Linked DNA regions of Homo sapiens: regions 1, 2, 4 and 5 are each reported to be linked to region 3. Evidence: microRNA targets listed by miRTarBase, many of them from high-throughput screens and not tested one by one. Region 3 holds a microRNA gene; each other region holds the end of a gene's coding sequence.

Region 1 (4,119 bases), not on the chromosome of region 3:
AAGGAAGAGTTAGTCACCGTCATGCAGCCAGCTGCCAAGTAGAGACACAAGAGTGAGGGTGGGGCTGCTCACTGAGGACCACAGTTCTGCCAACATGGCTGGGTTTAATTGCCTGGAAGTCTGGGTCCCATACAAGTCCCAGACTCATGTGAATTCTGCCATGCTTATGTGATCACAGTAAGTCAGCAGACCTTCAGTGTTCACTTTCAGAATTTCTGTTTTATGTTTCTTTCACCCATGAAGCAAAGAGCACTTCAAAGGAACTAATGCTTACAATACCTCATCCTTCCATTTGTTATATCAGCAAGCAAGACTTTTATTTTAAGGCTTTTCCATTCCTCTTAAATGTTGTAATTCTAAGCAGAAACAAACTTTTTTAAACCTATGAACAATTTCGTCATAAAATTAGTAATTTTATTCCAGTCTGAAATTTAAAAACACAGAAATACCTTGGTAGCATGATGAATCCATTGCCTTGATCTTTAACGTAAGTGTGTTCTTGTTTGTTCTCCTAGCTGTTACAGACGGCCATGTACGAACCGCCAGAAGGCTTGTGAGCCAGGATTTTCATATAGTGAAGAAGTGTGTCGTTGTGTCCCTTCATATTGGAAAAGACCACAAATGAGCTAAGATTGTACTGTTTTCCAGTTCATCGATTTTCTATTATGGAAAACTGTGTTGCCACAGTAGAACTGTCTGTGAACAGAGAGACCCTTGTGGGTCCATGCTAACAAAGACAAAAGTCTGTCTTTCCTGAACCATGTGGATAACTTTACAGAAATGGACTGGAGCTCATCTGCAAAAGGCCTCTTGTAAAGACTGGTTTTCTGCCAATGACCAAACAGCCAAGATTTTCCTCTTGTGATTTCTTTAAAAGAATGACTATATAATTTATTTCCACTAAAAATATTGTTTCTGCATTCATTTTTATAGCAACAACAATTGGTAAAACTCACTGTGATCAATATTTTTATATCATGCAAAATATGTTTAAAATAAAATGAAAATTGTATTATAAGCTGCTAAGTTCAGTCCATTATCATCTTACATGATGAACGAAAACTACTATCATGAAGACACTGATCTTTCTCTGCCCTTTTTTGTTCTCTAACCAGATGTCACATATGTATTACTATGATAAAAAGTATGATCCTGTGAAAGAGAGTGTCAGAGGACAACAGAATGCTATTGCTTCATCTCTTATATGTTTAATGATTATAAACATTTTAGTACATGATACTTTTGAATTTATGACCAAGTGAATCAATATGAAACATCTTGTAAGATAGACTACTTAGCATTGTGATTAAAAGTCATTCAGTGCTCTGAGAACATTCAGAATCTTACGTTGGTAGAAAATCCTGCAGTATATATTAAAATGGCTTTAAATATTTTCTCAAAAATAATCTTTTCCAAATATTTGACTTTTTCTGGCCAGCTAAAATACTTTTTGTGAGTGGAAGTGCTCCTATCCAATACATTTTAAAAAAAAACTAAAAATAATATTTAAATACTCATGCATGTTTAAAAGGAAACATTTCAGCCACACAATTGAAGTGCTTGTTTCATTTTCAAAAAGGCATTACACTAAAATACCTTTATCTTTTTTTTTTTTTTTCTTCAGATAGTGTTGCTCTGTTGCCCAGGCTGGAGTGCAGTGGCGTGATCTCAGCTCACTGCCCCTAACCTCTGCCTCCCGGATTCAAGTGATTCTCCTGCCTCAGCCTCCTGAGTAGCTGGGATTATAGGCACGTGCCGGCACACCTGGCTAATTTTTGTATTTTTAGTGCAGATGGGGTTTCACCATGTTGGCCAGTCTGATCACGAACTCCTGACCTCAAGTGATCCACAGACGTCGGCCTCAAAGTGCTGGGATTACAGGCATGAACCACCGTGCCCAGCCTAAAATACCTTTTACTAAAACAAAGATTTTGCCTGCATAAATAAAACCAAATAAGTGGTTTGTTCGTTGACAGAGAATTATATACTGGTACATCATAACTACTGTATAAAAATAATTAGTCCTGAAAAGAGAAAATATTCCTCATAAGCATGTAAAGGTAGCACATTAATTTAACTAAAACATTTTTGTTTTTTTGAAACGGAATCTCGCTCTGTTGCCCAGGCTGGAGTGCAGTGGTGCGATCTCGGCTCACTGCAAGCTCTGCCTTCTGGGTTCAAGCCATTGTCCCGCCTCAGCCTCTCGAGTAGCTGGGACTACAGAAGCCCACTAAAACATTTTTAACTGGTATAGGTGACAAATCAGTATGATACAAAATATCAGTATCTATATATTTTGCTACAAAATAATGTTTTCTTTCAAACTGTTTAATTAGGAAGTCAGTGCCCTGAAAATATCCTGTTTTCAATACTAACTTTAAAAAATGGTTTTAGTGCAATGGTTACTGAATTCCAGCTGTGTGCTCTGTACAGCATTATCATCTAGTTCATGAAGTAAAGTTGTTTATGTCCTGGAAAAGGAAAGCAGTCTTCCAAAACACTCTCATTTACGAATTATAGACTATTTTTCTATTTTTTAGTAACAATGGCTCTGAAGCTTGTCAGCAGTCAACATATGCATTGGGCATTCTACATACTGGCTAAGGTCTAGAAAGTTTTCAAACTTAAGAATAGTTAAAAAAAAAAACTTTGAAAAGTAAATTTGACAATGGGTGATTACAAAACGAAAATTGAGATCAAAATAACCTCTTTTCATCTTATAGGGAATCACAATCCCTAGTGTATAAAATGCTCATCATCTTTGAAATTCAGCTAAGATTCATTTTTTCATCTTATTTGAGCCAAAAGGAATATAAATAAACATTACATAATCTGTTACTGTTGATCTGGCCAATCATTTTTACATTTGATATATTCATTAATTTTTAAGCTAAATTAGGAGTAAAATATATTCTAAGTTTCAGTAAGCACCCTGAGGCCATGTAAAGAATAGTAGAACCTGATACAATGACTGTCATACGTTATCAGGTTTGAAAACAAACTAAACCGTGTGCTAAACATTAGTTTTTTGGGGTAAACCAAAGAATGAAAACACGAAATCAAAAACTAAAGCCTGAATCATGCCAGAAAAACTATTTAATCTTGTCCCTGGAGATGTAATAATTTTGACCAAAAGTGAGAGTATCGTAAACAAAGATAATATATTGCCGAAGATACTTGCAAACAATTTTATGTGGACCATAAAAATCCCTCTTCAACACATTATAATGAGTGAGATGTTGTGTAGCCAGTGAAGAAAATGGACTAAAGATAAAGCTAAACAATTAATTAGATTAACAAATATGATGCAGCAAAAAAGCTAAAAACTACAGTGAGAATGTTCATAAACTTTGCAGGAAAGTCCTGAGATGCCAATTCAGTCAACCTAAGTGATAAAGTTAAGAAAACTCTGGAAGCTCGCAGCAGTTATTATCTTAAAGCAGTTAGTATATTCCAAATCTTAGAAAGTTTATAAACAGAATTTTATGTCCAGAAACCTAATAGCACATACTCCTTTTAAAAGACTCAAGGAAAAATTGTTTTGGTGAGCAGTTGTGTAAGAGTTAGCGTCCAGATTTTTTGGGGGAAAGCTTTTGACATTTACTAACTGCTTGGCTGAAACAGATTCCATTATTAGAATTTCTAAAAATAACCTTTGTTCTTTGTATTCACACCACTCAAAACAAGTTTGAGTGGCAAATATAAGACTGAATTCACTGACGTACCTAGAATGCACTTTAAAGAAAAGAGAAAGGGTCATGAACTTATCTCTAGGCACTAGGCTTTCTCAAGGGATACCCCGCTTATGAAGGAATTTTACTCAGTGGATGAGAGAGAAGAAACAGACACAACAGGTGAGAGAGTTCATATTACAGCAATTGTTTCATACATTTGCTGTATGAATACGGCAAAGCTTATGAAACTCCTTACCTACATACTGAAGCTCCCATGTTTATCTGTCTAGGAAGTGCTGGGGCTAAGAGAATACACAGGTCTCTCGGCCCACACTCTTCTACATTGCTATGCTGTCCCCAAGATCTGAGCTTTCATTAGCAGGTTTTCCAAAGGATATTTTTTAGGGACTTTACCTTTTAAATTAAAAATGAGAATAGCATAAAA
Region 2 (4,095 bases), not on the chromosome of region 3:
GAGGTTCTGCTTAAGCACTTTGAGCTAATAAGATTTCTGCTCTTTGCTGATGGATCTGTGTATGCCTTAGAGAATGCTTTCAAGTTTGTTTCACATCTGATTGCTCCTGAGTGGATACAGCCCTGTCCATACATACTTCCCGAACCTCAAGGATAAACCAGATTCCAGGAGGGCTCTTCTTGGCTATCTCTTTCTCTGGTTTTCTGTGTTAAACTTCTGGCTGGTCTGTCATTTTGCTTTTTGCTACTAATAGCATGGAGTTACCAGCCCCTTCCTTAATGGCTCACTGGTAAGATGTCTTATTGTTTTTGACAATCCCCTTAGGCAAAGATTTCTCGTTCTCCGTACCAAATACCAGTCCCCTTGGGCATAACTGCTGGGTTACCAGTCTCAGAGCCTGGATCTCCTCTGGGGGCTGGACAGCAGCCTGCTTCTCCAGGACTGACATCCCTTCTCTGTGAGTGGGTTGATAGCCGCTGGTCTTCTCAGATTGCCCCTCCCAATGTGGAGCCTCCGCACTAAGCAGGCTAGGGTAGGGGCAATTGGAGCTCTACGATTCTCAGCCTGTCGCACCTGGGGCAAAGCCCTAGACTGGTAGCTGGAGGAAGAGAGACCCCTTAATTTTTGGCTGCATTGGTCCAGAATAGAGTTTGTCACATGAAGCTGGGGAGTGGGGATGGGATAGGATGAGGCTGTGGCTCAAATGCCACAGACTCACTGTTCTTTCTAAGACTTAGTAGTGGATTTTCCTGAATGAATGTTTATTTGTTGTATGCTTCTGGGGAAATTTTCAGAGACTTTGTGTTGTGTGGTTTATATACAAGTAATTTCCTTCAGTAGGAAGAGGGTCGGTCAGCTAAGCCCTGCAAACCACTATCTGTAAAGTCCTGTCAGTCAATGCTTTTAGCCTTGGCTGGGCTGCTTGGAGTCTGGCCTAAGTATACACGGTTCAGTTGTCAGCCAGAAATTTCTAAGTTCATGCGACGAACTTGGGGCTCTCCTTTTCAGGATTTTCTTCCTCACTTTCCAGAGGCTGTTTGTCCCGAACTCTGGCCTCTGGTTCCTCAGGCCAGTAAGACTGCAGGTTTCCTAACAGAGTTTTAGATCCCTGGCGGGGGCCTGCCATTGGATAAAAGGCCGAAACAGGAAAATCACCCAGTGTCGTTCTCTTCTTCCAAGTGTCTACTGCCCTCCAATATCTGCCTGCTTTGGATCGTGCTCCAGTGTTCTTAACAATTAAATAAATATTTTGTCCAGAATGACTGTTAATTTGGAGGAGAATTAGTCCAATTGGAGCTATTTACTAGAAGTGGAATTCCCCCTAACCATTAATTTTAGAATGGGTAATTTAAGGTTGGGAGAGTCTATGGTTTTAATGAGGAACAAGTAAGATGTTCCAAAATGAAATTTGGAGTGCTTTTACTTTTATATTATGAAGTAGAAAACAGCAAAACAACTAACAAAGGATGAAATTATTCTTTTTAAGCAAAACCTCAAGTCAACTATAAAACCAAAAGACTCATTCCAGACATTATCAAACATTCTAACAGTGACTAACACTCAGATTAAGAAACTGATTTCACATATGCTCAGCATATATCAGACTTGATTTCCACCAAATTTTTCTGTTGCTCAGCCTATCATTTTATTATATTGCATTGTCTTAGAAAACTAAGGACAAAAAGGTCACTGATGCTCCCATTCTAAAGAGAACTGTGCAATGTTCTATCCCATACATTGGCTCCGTGCTTCCCAACTGTATACTGCTATCTGAGATTATTCCACAGACTACTGCCACACTAGTAGCTCAGAATGTTATTTTTACTGTAATGACTGTGTGTCTCTCCTGCTTTACTGCCCTTTTCAGAAACACTGAAGGCTCCCAGTGTGCCCTCAGTTGCGAGGGTGTTGAGAACATAAAGATGAACAGGATGTCGTCTCTGGCCTCAAGTTGCTTATGTCCTTGTGCAATCTTTCACTTTATGGAAGTCGGTGTAAGATGTGGATCCATAACACTGGGACAGAGCCGATAAGCTCTGCCAAGAAAAATGACCTGAAAATTGGCTTCACTGTCAGTTTATGTTACTGTGTCAAATGCAGAGGATTACATTCCAAGAGAAAGAGTATGGGAAAGACAGAGAAGGTAGCTGGGTGCGGTGGCTCATGCCTATAATCCCAGCACTTTGGGGGACCGAGGCAGGTGGATCACCTGAGGTCAGGAGTTCAAGACCAGCCTAACATGGTGAAACCCCATCTCTACTAAAAATACAAAAATTAGCCGGGCATAATGGTGGGTGCCTGTAATCCCAGCTACTCAGGAGGCTGAGGGCAGGAGAATCGCTTGAACGCGGGAAGTGGAGGTTGCAGTGAGCTGAGATTGTGCCATTGCACTTTAGCCTGGGCGACAGAGCGAGACTCTGTCTCAAAAAAAAAAAAAAAAAAGGGAGAGAAGGTAGCAAGGAAGAGGTGCCTGGTGCTGACTGAAGGCTTTTTTTTTTTGAGACGGAGTCTCTTTGTCTTCCAGGCTGGAGTTCAGTGGTGCCATCTCAGCTCACTGCAAGCTCTGCCTCCCGGGTTCATGCCATTCTCCTGCCTCAGCCTCCCGAGTAGCTGGGACTACAGGCGCTCACCACCACACCCGGCTAATTTTTTGTATTTTTCGTAGAGACGGGGTTTCACCATGTTAGCCAGGATGGTCTTGATCTCCTGACCTCATGATCCACCCGCCTTGGCCTCCCAAAGTGCTGGGATTACAGGCGTGAGCCACCGTGCCCAGCCGAAGGCTTCCTTTAAAGGGTGTGATGCTGTTCCAGTTGGCAATGCCCCAGGCCATTGGAACATTGGAACTGCACTTCATACAGTGACCATGGGACCATGCAATAAAGTGTTACTTAGACTCAGTGCCTCGACCTGTAATCATGATTTCACACTCTGTGCCTGGCAAAAGATTCTGTTCTGAATAACTTTATTGCAAGTCACATAATCTTGGTTTAGACTTGACGCAACGGGAGGTTACAGAGCTGTAAATAACAACTGGTCATTACCTTATTGAGTTTAGAAAACTTTCAAGTTCGTGACATATGTTAATTGCACTTAAATAGACAGTGAGAGAAAGATTTATAAAGGCATCATTCAAAAGGATTTTTACATTTGGGTGTGCCTTACTCGATTACAAAAATTTCAAACCATCTTCCCACCTAGGGCCTAGGGCGAGTTTTCTCTTTCCCTGGGACTGAACTATCACAAAGCACTAAAGGGTTTAAGCAAACGTGAGTATCACTGAAAAGCACTAGAAGAAAGTCTCAATGTGGCTGGAAGAAACCAGAAGGCAAGATTGCCTGGGTGAGAAAGAAAACATAAAAATCTGTGTGTGAGATCACAAGCAGCAACTTCTCTGTGTTGAATTCAGATGTCTTTCCCACAGTCGGGGCACAGGATGTCGTCCCTCTCTGTGAGGAAGCCACGCCCCACCAGTGAGAGGGAGCACTTCTTACAGTTAAAGCAGTCGTTATGCCACTGCCGTTCCTCAAAGGAGATGTATTTTGTGCCACCAAGTCCTGTTAACAGAGAGAAAATAATACCGGATGAAGAAAGTTAGAATCAGGCAACTGGGACTGAAGAAGGAATTCTGGTTTGATCCATTTCAAAGTTTGGATTGTGTAATATGGATAATGTGAATTTCTAGTGACTGGGTGTTGGGAATCCATATGTAAATCAGATTCTATGCACAGCCTGGAGGATCTCGTGAATATCAGAAGAGATATATAAACTGGTTCCAAAACGATGGGATAAGTGCGATCAAAGAATGCTGACTGTGTATTTGTTATGTGTTTTCCCACAAAATGAAACTCCATGAGAAGAGGGAGCAGATTTCTCTTATGTCTTCACTAGGTGCCTCACGTTGCCTGGTGCTCAAATTTTTATGACTTAATGATTGAAGCAGTGAAGGGAGTGTAGAAGAGGAAAAGGTTAATCCTCCCTGGGATGGCCAGGAAAGGCCTCACAGATAAAGTGCGATGTGGGTGGGAATGAGGGGAGAGGGATATTGTCGCAGTGGGAAGATCCTGAGAAAGCTGCAGACAGATAGAATGGAAT
Region 3 (4,119 bases):
TTCTATTTTATCTACTAGTGTTGCTAACACTGTACAACATGTATCTACTTAGAGTGGTTTTATTTTGCTTCGTGGCCGTATTTTTTTGCTTTATTACTGATTGTTTTAGTTTTGGTATCTGTTTTGGGGGTGGGTTCTTATATTTTCAGAGGTATTTGGAATTATTTGGAGGTTAATTTTTTTTTAATTGTAAAATGTATATAAACATAAAATTTACCATTTTAATCATTTTAAGTGTAAAATTCAGTGGAATTAAGTAAATCCACAGTGGTGTGCAATGATCACCACAATCCATCTCCAGAAATGATTCATTATCCCAAACTAAACCTCTGTAACCATTAAACACTGACTCCCCATTCCCAGCTCTTGGTAACCTCTATTCTACTTTCTGTCTCTCCTAGTTTGCCTATTCCAGGGACTGAATAGAATAAAATCATACAGTAGTATTCCTTTGTGACTGCTTTATTTTACCCAGCATATTGTCTTCAAGGTTAATCCATGTTATAGCATGTGTCAGAATTTTATTTCTAAGCTGGACATGTATGCACATGACTGTAGTCCCAGCTACTCAAGAGGCTGAGGCAGGAAGATCGCTTGAGTCCAAGAGTTAGATTCTAGCCTGAACAACATAAGGAAACCCAGTTTAAAAAGAAAATTATTTCCTTTTGTAGGGCAAATAACATTTCCTTGTATGCATATACCACAGTTTGCATATCACTTTATCTGTTGATGAACACTTGTATTGCTTCTACCTTTTGTCTATTATAAATAATGCTGCTTTGAACATGGGGGCACTATGTCCCTTTGAAATACTGATTTCAGTTCTTTTGGGTATATACCCAATACTGCAATTGCTGAAATATGGTAATTATATCTTTAATTTTTTGAAGAACCACCATAGTGTTTTCTGTGGTGACTGTGCCATTTTACTTTCCTACCAGCAATGCACGGGGTTATAATTTCTTCACTTGTCAACACTTGTTATTTTCTGTTTGTTTGCTTGTTGATAATATTGATTCTAATGGGTGTGAAGTCGTATCACATTGTGGTTTTGGTTGCATTTCCCTAATTAGTGATATTGAGCATTGTTTCACTTATTTATGAGGTAGAATTGATTTTAGAAATATTTTTGTTTGAGTTTTGATTTATTGGTGTGTAGCTGTAGACTTGGGTCATTTTGGACTACTGACACTGGTGGAGGTTCCTGAATGCTGGGAGACCTGGACATGTCCAGATTAAATGTCCCACACCATAATCTCCCTTTCTCTTGCTCCATGGCAAGTAATTTAGCTAATCCTTTAATTTATTCAGTGCACCTCCCTCTCTCTTTACAGTCTTTTGTTTAACTTGGCTCCCTAGCTCTTAAAATATAACTAGTTTGGGGTCTGTGGATCTCTTACTCCTACTTGCTTCCCCCTTTCTTCAGCCTCAGTATTGAAAGGAAAAAATAGATTCCTGGGAGGCCTGTGTCTCCAAATGAAAATTTTGAAAGAGACCCTCTTGACAAGAACTCTAGGAAATGTTGAGAAAGTCCAGGGCTGAGAAGGAAGAATAAGATATAACTAGGTTCTAAGCCAATTGCTCTCTTGGAAATGATTCCAGGCAAGGTAAATGATCTGTATAATCCCCAGGAATGGTGGAGAAAATGAGATTTTTGTCCTATGAATCCTGGCACTGCCTAAATGATCTATCTCTTTTGCTTGAATTCTCTGCATGTTTACCTTGTTCTCTCTGTTGTTTTGGTGTTAAAAGTTAAATAACTCTGAACCAAGGGACTAGGAATTTGGGGGCACAGAGGGTGGGGAGACCTTTAACACTGGTGGAACACAAATCATTTTTAATATGCCATTCCTAATGACTTGAAAATACATAGGAAAATGTTGGTGAGATTATTTGTTGCCGACTGAAGAGAAGAAGTCCTCAAAATCAGCACATGAAATATGCAGCAAGTAAGAGTATCCTCACTAAAGGATGGTTAGAGAATGGGAATGGAGTGGCAAACATACTAGAAATTCTTCATCGTATCTAAACTTCACGTATATATTTGGGTAGAGCCACCACCTTCAGCTGAGTGTAGTGCCCTACTCCAGAGGGCGTCACTCATGTAAACTAAAACATGATTGTAGCCTTTTGGAGTAGAGTAATACACATCACGTAACGCATATTTGGTGGCCATGGGTGTGAGTGTATACAGCCGCATGCACAGAGCTGCCCTCCCTTGTGTCCAAGCACCACCCTCCCCTTGCTGGGCTAACTCAATGGACTCCCATAGGCAGGTCTTGAAAGGCAAATCCTAGGGACTGAGGGCTCCCAGGAAAAATCACCCATGTAGGCTTTCCGGGGATTTATATACCCTTGTCCAAAGGAGGCATGCCCACACAGGTAAGAAAATTTGTAGTGAGGATGTGGCTTTTCCTCTTTTTATATTCAGAGCTTCTACTGCTACAGAGCCCAACTATTCATTTTGCCTTGAAAAACCTCCAACGTATTTTTCCTCACAACATTTCTTTTAGCTTCCAAGCCTTTTCATTTCCCAGTGGGCTCTTCAAATTCCCTCCTGCCTCAGAAGCATCCCTCTGCACCAAAAAGCTCTTGCTCTTTCAGGATTGAAGACAAGCCTTTCCTTAAGAGTTTGTGTGTTCTTCCTTACTTGGAAAAATACATTATTTCCAAAATTATCTATCTGTTGGTTAAAAAAAAAATATATATATATATAAAATATTTATGTATATATTTTTAAAAAATATTTATATGTATATTTTAAAAAATATTTATTGAAAATATGTGTATATCAGTCCTTTCTAAATTCAACATATCTATAAAAGGTTAAGAAGTTGCCTAGAATATTTGTTTTGTTAGTTTTCTTTGAATTATATTTAACATTTTATTTTTAAAATTATATGAAGGAATAAAAAGAAGTGAAGGTATTCATCTCAGATTATTGAGAATGATAACATATATATTTGTCTTTTCCCTTCCACTTCCCTTCAGTTGCTCCTTCTTAACCTAAGGTCTTCAGAAAGAAAACTTGAGAATCACAGACAAAAGATGGCCAGCGCCGGATCCCTGGAGAACATCTTCAGACTGGAGCAGTGACTAGGAAGCAGGTTGTACACACTACGGTGCTGGAAAAATGGAGGTGGAGTGGGGTTGGAGGGTAATCATCCTGGTGACCCCTTCCGGATTAATTCTCATAAAGCACCTTAAGTGGGCAAGTTGAAGTTTATGGAATTTTGTTGTCATCTCGAGTCAGTGACATGTCTCACTCCGTTCCAAATCTTGGCAAAAATTTAGATTGTAATCAAGAGGAAGGGTATTCTTCTCTTATATCACTAATACTACTACATTATCGCCTGTGTACAACCAGTGTCTACTGCTCATGGTATCTTCTTCCCTATTTCATGAGCTCTAAGAGTTTTCCTGGGCAGAAAGTCTCACCACCCTAGATGTGTGTCTGGGGCAGTGACAGTGGCACCACTGCAAATTGTTCTCAAATTTGTGCTTATTTTTGAGAAGGTGTGAGTTTGTGTGTGAGTATGTGTGTGTTGGTTTTTACAAATGAGTTAATTTAGTTAGTTGATTCGTTCATGTGCATATTGTGGTTGGGTTTGGGGGGACTTTTCAAATTGTTTTTGCTTAGTAATATTGTTTATCCAGACATTGGTAACTGTCTGATTTTGGTTTTGTTTTTGTTTTTTGTGATATTATTTTGTTTATAATTGTCCTTTCATTTCCAGTCTCTGTGCATTTATTTTTCAAAGTTGGTTCTTCCTTTTTAGGTTTATTTGTTTATTTTGTTTGCTTGTATTATTATTTTTAACTGACACATAATCATTGTACATATTTTGGGGGTACAGTGTGATTTTTTATTGTTTGCAATTCAGTGTTCATGGCACCTCTGCTTGTTGTTTCGTTGCATACTTGAAGTTTTTTTTTTTTTTTAAGTTAGAATTGTGGTTTGTGTTTCAGCAAATGTTTTATTCCTGTTTCGGGGGGAGGGGGCTGTCATGATTTAATTATTAGTTGTTGGTTCCAATCTGAGTTTTCTTCTTTGGTTTTGATTTGGTTTTAATTTATGCGTTTGGTTTGATTTGTACTGAGAGGTGCTTGGGAGTTGTT
Region 4 (4,119 bases), not on the chromosome of region 3:
GTGCACATTGTAATATCGTGATTTCATATTTGGAGAATCAGCAACCAACCAGCCAACCATGTTGCTTTTATAAGACAGAGCTGAGAAAGCAAAGCTTGGCTGTCGTCTTGGCTCTGGTACCACCCACGAGATGCGGGCGATTCTCAGCTCAGGGCGTGGAGGCGTGGTGTGGGGGAGTCTATTTGCCATTTTTGTTTGTCAGCAGGGGGCAGGGGTTCTCAAAGATTGCAAAATGCTGCTGCAGGTCAGGAAGGTTATTTTGGGTGCCTGTGGGGGAGGTGAAACAAGGTCCCATGACTGTTTTGCAGAACCTTGTCTGTGGAGGGTAGAGGTTGCGGCAGGGGCCTGTGGGCCTTACTTGGTGAGAAGGTAGGTCTAGCTGGCTCCATTCAGTATTTGAGACATTTGGAATTTGTCTGCATTTAAAACCAAGAGATCACACACACCTGTCTGGATTTGGAGTTTCTCTTGAAAACTCGCCAGTCCGGCCGTCTGAGCCTGCACTGACGCCTGGTGAAGCTGTGCAGGGGCCGCCCCTCTCCCTTTCACCACAGTCCTCTCCACTCCCTTTCGCCTCTCCCTGGCCTGCTGCACTCACTGATAGGAAATTCTGACCCCAGACTCGGAGCAGCCTTCCCGTGGTTCGGTTTTTGCTTCCGCGAAAAAGCCAAAGGCCTTGGCCAGAGAGCCAGCTGTTCCTACCTCTACCCCACGCTTCCAAGGCAACCTTCTCCACTTATCTTAGGCCGAGAGACAGCTCTTCAAGAACGTACATGGATCCTGATTTTCTCACGAAGTCCCGATGGAACCCTGTGCTGTTGAGACATCAGTGTGTAAAACTCTCTGTGTCCCTGTTGGGCTGTCCAGACAGTCTGGACTCTTGTAAATTTGAGATTTAATTAAAGGAAACAAACCAAATAGGACTGCGGAACAATTTAAATAAAAGCACACACCAGCCTGGGCGCAGTGGCTCATGTCAGTTAAACCTAGTGCTTTGGGAGGCCGAGGCAGGAGGATCACTTGAGCCAAGGAGTTCAAGACCACCCTGGGCAACATAGCGAGACCCTATCTCTAAAAATATATATATATAAGGCCAAGTGCAGTGGCTCACGCCTGTCATCCCAGCACTTTGGGAGGCTGAGGCAGGCAGATCACCTGAGGTCAGGAGTTCAAGACCAGCCTGGCCAAGATGGTGAGACCCCATCTGTACTAAAAAGTACAAAAATTAGCTGGGCATGGCGGCGGGTGCCTGTAATCCCAGCTACTTGGGAGGCTGAGGCAGGAGAATCACTTGAACCTGGGAGGCGGAGGTTGCAGTGAGATGAGATCGTGCCACTGCATTCCAGCCTGGGCAACAGAGTGAGACTTGGTCTCAGAAACAGAATAAAAAAATAAAAAATTATAGCCAGTCAGGGTGGCATGCACATGTGGTCCCAGCTATCTGGAAGGATGGCTTGGACCCAGGAGGTTGAGGCTGCGGTGAGCCGAGATCGCACCACTGCACTCCAGCCTGGGTGATGGAGCAAGATCCTGTCCAAAAAAAAAAAAAAAAAGCACACATATGCACACGTAAGGTCAGAGGGGAAGCTCCTGTGTGTCCCGAGATGCCCTGATGTATGCTGGTGCATCAGGCCACCCGGGCATCATCCTTGATGACAGCCAGGGATCCAGAAGCTGTGGGCGAATCCCAGCTGACCAGGAGAGAGTCCCCCTACCTTGGCCAGGGTACTGGTGGTAGGCACTGTTTCCCACGGCCTTTTCTGCACAGGAGGCCCTGGCAACCCTGTCGTGCTCATCTTCTGGGCCCCGTGGAGCCTCAGAGTCAAGAGCTGGAAAGCCTCCTGGCCTTGGCGGGGGGGTCTTCAGACCTCAGAGCACTGCCATTCTTGGTCTAGGGGCCCTTCCCGCTGATGTGTGCGGCCGTCAGTCCTTTCCTCATGTGGTGGCATCAAGTGTGTGCTGGGAAGTCAAGGCTGGCTGGTTCTTTTTCTTTTGAGACAAGGTGTCACTCTGTGGCCCAGGCTGGACTGCAGTGGCGCGATCTTGGCTCACTGCTGCCTTGGACTCCTGGGTTCAGGCGATTCTCCTGCCTCAGGCTCCTGAGTGGCTGGGATTACAGGTGTGCCCCACCACACCTGGCTAATTTTAAAATTATTTATTTTTTGGTAGAGATGGGGGTCTTGCTATGTTGCCTAAGCTGGTCTTGAACTCCTGGTGTCAAGAGATTCTCCCACCTTGGCCTCCCGAAGTGCGGGGATTCACGGGCGTAAACCATCCTGTCTGGTCTGTTTTTGTTTTTTAGTCACTGTTGCAACCCAGCTTCAAAAAACTACGGGAGGCTGGCCACAGTGGCTCATGCCTGTAATCCCAGCACTTTGGGAGGCCGAGACAGGTGGATTGCTTGAGCTCAGTTCGAAACCAGCCTGAGCAACATGGCAAAACGCTGTCTCTATCAAAAGAAGATGCAAAAATTAGCCGGGCATGGTGGCGTGTGCCTGTAGTCCCAGCTACTTGGAAGGCTGAGGTGGCAAGATCGCTTGAGCCCAGGAGGTGGAGGTTGCAGTGAGCCGTGTTACACCACTACACTTCAGCCTGGGTGACAGGAGAAGACCCTGTCTCAAAAGAAAAACAAACTAAGGGAAACCAATGCCCCAGGCTGCAGAGAGCAGGTCGGCCTTGGAACATCCTCCCGCGCTGGGGCCTGTGGCAGCCACAGAAACCCGGGTGTGAATTCACAACATGTGGGGGACCCAGGGACAGCGAGTGCCAAGGGGGGAAGGGGGCAAGTTCACATACAGCCACCTTGGGATCTAGCGCTTTGATGCCTGCAGAGAAGTCCCACCCAGAGACACCGCCCACCCGCCCACGGTGGGGCAGTGTCAGCCGCGTCTGAGCTCCTGACCCGCAACGGCCAGCCGGGAGGGCCCAGGCTGTGGGGTTGCTTTTTAATGTTCTTATTTATTTAAATATGAAAAAACATTTCATCTCTTCCCAGTTCATCTGAAAGGAGGTCCCCTGGGTAAACATAGGAAAGCAGTTCTGCAGGCTCATGAAGGATGCTCGGCTGGAGGTCGGGGGGAGCATGGCTGCTTTCCCCAGCATAGCCCCCATGTTCCCCACCCTCTTTGTGCCCCGGATCTGCGATCCTGAGTCCAGAAGAGCTCAGCAGGAAGTGGGAACTGAGAAGCTGTTGGGAGCCAGGAGGGCCCTGGACCCTCTGTTCTCTGCCCCAGGGCTTCAGCCACCCTGCAAGCCCCTCCGGACAAGGCAACGTCAGCCCAGGTAGAAAACTTAAGAGTCCCTCCTAGAAAACCAGTGATGTGCTGGCCCTTTCAGGGACACAGGCCCCTTCAGCTTCACCGGAGATGAGAAGGTGCCACCCGCAACAGGGCTGCTGGTCACAGCTCAGTGCGCGATGCCTTGGCCACAATCACCAGCTTGGACAGCTCAGCTTTGAATGCCCCGGGCCTGTGAGCCACTGCAAGAAAGAAACACATGGTTGGGCCCTCAACATTGAAAATTCTCAGAAGTCCGGAGGATTTGGGGTGGGGCCCATGGTGGGGGCTAAGCAGGCAAGGGGAGCAGTCTCCAAAGCAGACTCCCATGTGAAAAGGCCCCAGGCACTGAAAGTCTTACGGGTGACAGACAGGAAAACAGTGATGTGGAGGGTAAGGTCGGTGGGGCTAACATAGATGGCAGGCAGCAGGAAGCCACAGAAAGACCTGAGGTGGGAAGAACCCTGGTCATTTGTGCCATGTTGTCAAGAAGAGATGCAGAAAGGGGCCAGAAGAAGCCCAGGAAGGAGATGATCCCGGCCTGAACAGGATGCAGGGTGGGTCAGGCTGCAAGACCTCCTGCTCAGTGGGTGAACCTGTCTGAGGCCCTCATGACACTTCTCCAGCAGGGTCAGAACTCTGGCTTCCACTGCTTCACCCAAGTCTCCCGGCCCTACCTGCTGTGTCCACTCCCTTGGCTCCCACCCTTGCCCCAGCTCGGCGCCTCCGATTCCTCTTTCTGCTTAGCATTGGCGCCATGCAGCTGAATGTGGCTTGAGGACACCGGTGCTGCTCAGGCAACCGAAGAAGGACCCTGATGTTTCCCAGTGACCCCTGCAGCCTC
Region 5 (4,119 bases), not on the chromosome of region 3:
TCTCGGCTCACTGCAACCTCCACCTCCCGGCCAAAGGACCCCATTCTTGAAGGGCTTTGTTGTGTCTCCAGGCTGAGCTCCTCTGTCAGCATTCTGGGAAGGTGCTCCTTCAGTGACTCAGATCCAGTTAACTCTATGGCCGGTAGATGTGAGAGGCAAGGCTCTCCGGCCAGGATGCAGAGTGCTGGCATGGGCAGCAAGAGACCTGAGGCCAGGAGTTCCACCAGCCTGGCCAACATGGCAAAACCTAAACTAAACCTCAACCTAAACCCGGGCGTGGTGGTGCATGCCTGTAATCCCAGCTACTTGGGAGGCTGAGGTACAAAAATCCTTTGAACCCGGGAAGCAGGGGTTGCAGTGAGCCGAGATCACGCCACTGCACTCCAGCCTGGGCGACACAGAGACTCCGTCTCAAAAAATAAAAAAAGGAACAATCCTAAAAAGTGAGGGTGCCTAAAGCTATGTCCCCGAAGTGCCACTGTCAGTGAGGGCCTTTCCAAGTTTGTGTTCACTCATTTGCAAGCACAAAAAGACATTTTTACAAAAATAGTATCGCACCTTATATGTTGTTCTGCCGTATGCTTTTCTCAACAACATTCTGTGTCATGTAACTCTGCCTCTTCTTTTTCCCTTGTGTGAATGAACCATAATTTATTTTATCAGCCTAGAAGGTGTGTTATTAACAACTCCGTTCTCCTATTTCTCTAGGGGTCCTAGCAGGATGAAGCCATTTAAATACAACCATCCTCAGGGATTCTTCAGCCATCGCTGATCTCCCGCGCAGACCGTTGTTTCCCCCAAGGCCTCACCCTGAGCACTGGGCTTCTGCTTTCTGCTCTGGCCCACATGTGACTCTTGATATTCTCCAAAGACACCAGCCAATTAAAAAGCGTCACCTGACCAGTGGCCTTTGTCTGTGGTTCCTGGCAAGGTGGCTTTGCAGTCTGGAAGGGCAGGTGGGAGCTGTGACACAGTGTGAAAAAGCATTTGTAGAGAGACTTTTTCTCAGCAGCCAATAAAAGCAGAGTGGAAAAAGATTCCAATTCTGCAGAGAGATGCTCACCTCTTGTCTACGCACACCCTATTTGTGCTTTGCGGGGTGAGGTCCTCATGATCTTGTATTTATTATCCCAAGTTCCTGCTGTTAAGAGGTGGTAGGAGAAGCCAAAGGCAGCAGAGCACAAAAAGCAAAACTCTTCCCTCCCCACCCGCTCTTCCCATTAGTCCTGTCAGGGTTGCCGATGGACAAATTGTCTCTGATCGTTGGATGTTATAAATGTCTGACAGTGCAGTGCAAACAGAAGACAAACTCAGTTGATCCTTGAACAACTCAGGGGTTAGGGGCACCAACACCCCCTGCCCTGCACAGTTGAAAAATCCGTGTATAACTTTTGACTCCCTAAAAACTTAACTAATAGCCTGCTGTTGACCAGTAGTATGCTATTAGTAGTTACTTACTGCTAACATAGTCAGTACATATTTTCAGTATATATTTTGTATCTTATACACTGTATTCTTACAATACAGTAAACTAGAGAAAAGAAAATGTTATAAGGAAAGTCACAAGGGGGCCTGAGTGCAGTGGCTCACGTCTGTAATCCCAGCACTTTGGGAGGCCAAGGCGGGTGGATCACTTGAGGTCAGGAGTTTGAGACCAGCCTGGCCGACATGGTGAAACCCTGTCTCTACTAAAAACATGGAAATTAGCCAAGCGTGGTGGCGCATGCCTGTAGTCCCAGTTACTCAGGAGGCTGAGGCAGAATTACTTGAACCCATGAGGCAGAGGTTGCAGTAAGCCAAGATCACGCTCCTGCGCTCCGGCTTGGGCGAGAGTGAGACTCCGTCTCAAAAATAAATAAATAAGAAAGCCATAAGGAAGAAAATATATATCTACTATTAAGTAGAAGTGGATCACCATAAAGGTCTTCACATACTGTCTCAGGGTTGAATAGTCTAAGGAAGAGGAGGGGTTGGTCTTGGTGTCTCAGGGATGGCAGAGGCAGAAAAAGTGGGGGAGGTGGAGGGGGAGGCAGGCACCACTGTTATTTTTATTGAACAAAATCTGTGCAGGGACTCATGACTGTAATCCTAGTACTTTGGAAAGCTAAGGCGGGAGGATCCCTTGAGGCCAGGAGTTCAGGTCCAGCCTGGGCAACGTAGTGAGAGACCCTGTATCTACAAAAAATTTAAAAATCAGCCAGGTGTGGTGGTATGCACCAATAGTCCCAGTTACTCAGAAGGCTGAGGTGGGCGGATGACTGGAGTCCAGGAGTTCAAGGTAGCAGTGAGCTATTCATCGTGCCTGTACTGTACTCCAGCCTGGGAAACAATGCGAGTCCCTATCTCTAAAAAATTTTAAAAAAAGAAATCTGCATATAATAGACCCACAGAGTCCAAACTATTGTTCAGAGATCAACTGTACTTCACAGAGAGTAATTCTAAGTCTTACAGGATTTCATGGAGATGGCGAGAGTGGTGTTGGAGAATCAATCACATACAGAGATACAGGACAGTGAGACCAGGTAACATTTGAGGAGAATATTTTTTTTTTATTGAGACAGGGTCTTGCTCTGTTGTCCAGGCTGGAGTGCAGTGGCACGAACACAGCTCACTGCCGCCTCAACCTCTCCTGGGTTCAAGTGATCCTCCTGCCTCAGCCTCCCAAGTAGCTGGGACCACAGGTGTGTGCCACCATTTCTGGCTAATTTTTAAATTTTTTGTAGAGGCGGGATCCCACTATTTTTCCCAGGCTGGTCTCAAACTCCTGGGCTCAAATGATCCTCCCACCTCGGCCTCCCAAAGTGCTAGGATTATAGGCATGAGCCACCACACCCGGCCTGAGTAGAGTCTTTAAGGTAATGACAAAAGTGCCTCAAAATATAATTATTTGATTAAGAGAAGTCTTGGGAAGATAGGTAACAACCTTTAAAATGTTCATAAAATTACATCCTTTGTAATACTCCTGCAAGTCAAAGTAAAGGATGGCATAGACTATTCTTGGACAGTTTTGTCAAAAAGTGTATCTTGACCCCACCATCAGTACTCCATTCTTCATTTTAAAAAATAAGATGGGCTGGGCACAGTGGCTTACGCCTTTAATATCAGTACTTTGGGAGGCTGGTGGGCGGATCACCTGAGATCAGGAGTTCAAGACCAGCCTGGCCAACATGGTGAAACCCCGTCTCTACTAAAAATACAAAAATTAGCTGGGCATGGTGGTGCGCGCCTGTAATCCCAGCCACTCGGGAGGCTGAGGCAGGAGAATTGCTTGAATCCCCGAGGCGGAGGTTGCACTGAGCCGAGATGGTGCCACTGCACCATCTGGACAACAGAGCAAGACTCCGTCTTGGAAAAAAAAAAAAAGATGTAGAAATGTAAAAATATTTGAGAATTATTACATAGTTGCAGATATAGTTTGCTAACTCCAAGAGGAAACACATTTTATTTTTTGTGATTGTCCTGATGAAACTTTATCCCCCCACAACATGCTGTTAAGCTTGGTTCCCATCATAAGCATATTCCCCCTAAGTGGACTTTTACTGATTTTCCATGGATAATGCAGACCTCCAGTATAAAAGCTATTCCTCCAGGTCTCTCTGCCGACCACTGAGTATCCCAGGGATAAGGATTTTAAGAGTAAGAGCTAAGTAATAAATTCCTGCCCCTAGCAGGGCCGTTCATTTTACGGATGAAAACCTGATCCTTGCTGGGCGTGGTGGCTCATGCCTATAATCCAAGCCATTCAGAAGGCTGAGGCAGGAGGATTGCTTGAGCCCAGGAGTTCAAGACCAGCCTGTGTAATATAGTGAGTCCCCATTCAGAAAAAGAAAAGAAACCTGAGCCTAGCAAGGAGAAGAGAATGGTACCTTTGGTGGCTGTTAAATCACCACCGCTACCCTCAGTCCACATCAGTCCTTTGAATTCCAAAGGCAGGTACTCTCTAGCTCAGAGGTCCTCGAACTTCAGCCTGTGTGGGAGTCACCCATCCTGGCACCTGATTAGAAACACAGACACCCAAGTCCCATTCCAAATATTCTGACTCAATTGACCTGAGATGCACCAAGGAAGTGTATTTTTTTATTTTTATTTTTTGAGCCTTGCTCTGTCGCCCAGGCTAGA

Evidence for each region. The annotated mature microRNA hsa-miR-508-5p reads UACUCCAGAGGGCGUCACUCAUG and lies in region 3 at 2,083-2,105, shown strand. An mRNA with a match to its seed (bases 2 to 7 or 8) in the 3' UTR can be bound and repressed. Matches are read on the target gene's strand: a 7mer-m8 pairs with bases 2 to 8, a 7mer-A1 pairs with bases 2 to 7 and ends in A, and an 8mer does both.
Region 1: miRTarBase lists VEGFC as a target of hsa-miR-508-5p. The part of its 3' UTR that is shown has no 7-base or 8-base seed match.
Region 2: miRTarBase lists FHL2 as a target of hsa-miR-508-5p. The part of its 3' UTR that is shown has no 7-base or 8-base seed match.
Region 4: the mRNA of MYDGF is a reported target of hsa-miR-508-5p. The part of its 3' UTR that is shown has no 7-base or 8-base seed match.
Region 5: the mRNA of THOC5 is a reported target of hsa-miR-508-5p. Seed matches in the 3' UTR shown: 7mer-m8 at 2,259-2,265 and 7mer-m8 at 2,583-2,589.

Annotation. Positions count from the first base shown.
Region 1 is chr4:176,680,437-176,684,555 of GRCh38, reverse strand. VEGFC (vascular endothelial growth factor C) reads left to right here. Exons shown (of 7, transcript NM_005429.5): 7 at 516-1,018. The coding sequence ends at 630. The region is part of intron 2 of HAFML (HuR (ELAVL1) associated fibroblast migratory lncRNA); the gene reads right to left. Among named protein-coding and RNA genes, the nearest start is that of HAFML, 28 kb to the right of the region's middle.
Region 2 is chr2:105,357,878-105,361,972 of GRCh38, forward strand. FHL2 (four and a half LIM domains 2) reads right to left here. Exons shown (of 7, transcript NM_001318895.3): 7 at 2,949-3,557. The coding sequence ends at 3,406. It also overlaps a transcript of C2orf49 not described here. Among named protein-coding and RNA genes, the nearest start is that of C2orf49, 22 kb to the left of the region's middle.
Region 3 is chrX:147,234,966-147,239,084 of GRCh38, reverse strand. MIR508 (microRNA 508) reads left to right here and starts at 2,058; the gene lies at 2,058-2,172. All of the region lies in intron 2 of LOC105373347 (periphilin-1), which reads right to left.
Region 4 is chr19:4,654,607-4,658,725 of GRCh38, forward strand. MYDGF (myeloid derived growth factor) reads right to left here. Exons shown (of 6, transcript NM_019107.4): 6 at 2,939-3,478. The coding sequence ends at 3,399. It overlaps TNFAIP8L1 (TNF alpha induced protein 8 like 1), which reads left to right. Exons shown (of 2, transcript NM_152362.3): 2 at 1-962. Among named protein-coding and RNA genes, the nearest start is that of MYDGF, 14 kb to the right of the region's middle. RefSeq lists a silencer at 126-175.
Region 5 is chr22:29,505,110-29,509,228 of GRCh38, reverse strand. THOC5 (THO complex subunit 5) reads left to right here. Exons shown (of 20, transcript NM_003678.5): 20 at 709-3,350. The coding sequence ends at 772. Among named protein-coding and RNA genes, the nearest start is that of NEFH, 27 kb to the right of the region's middle.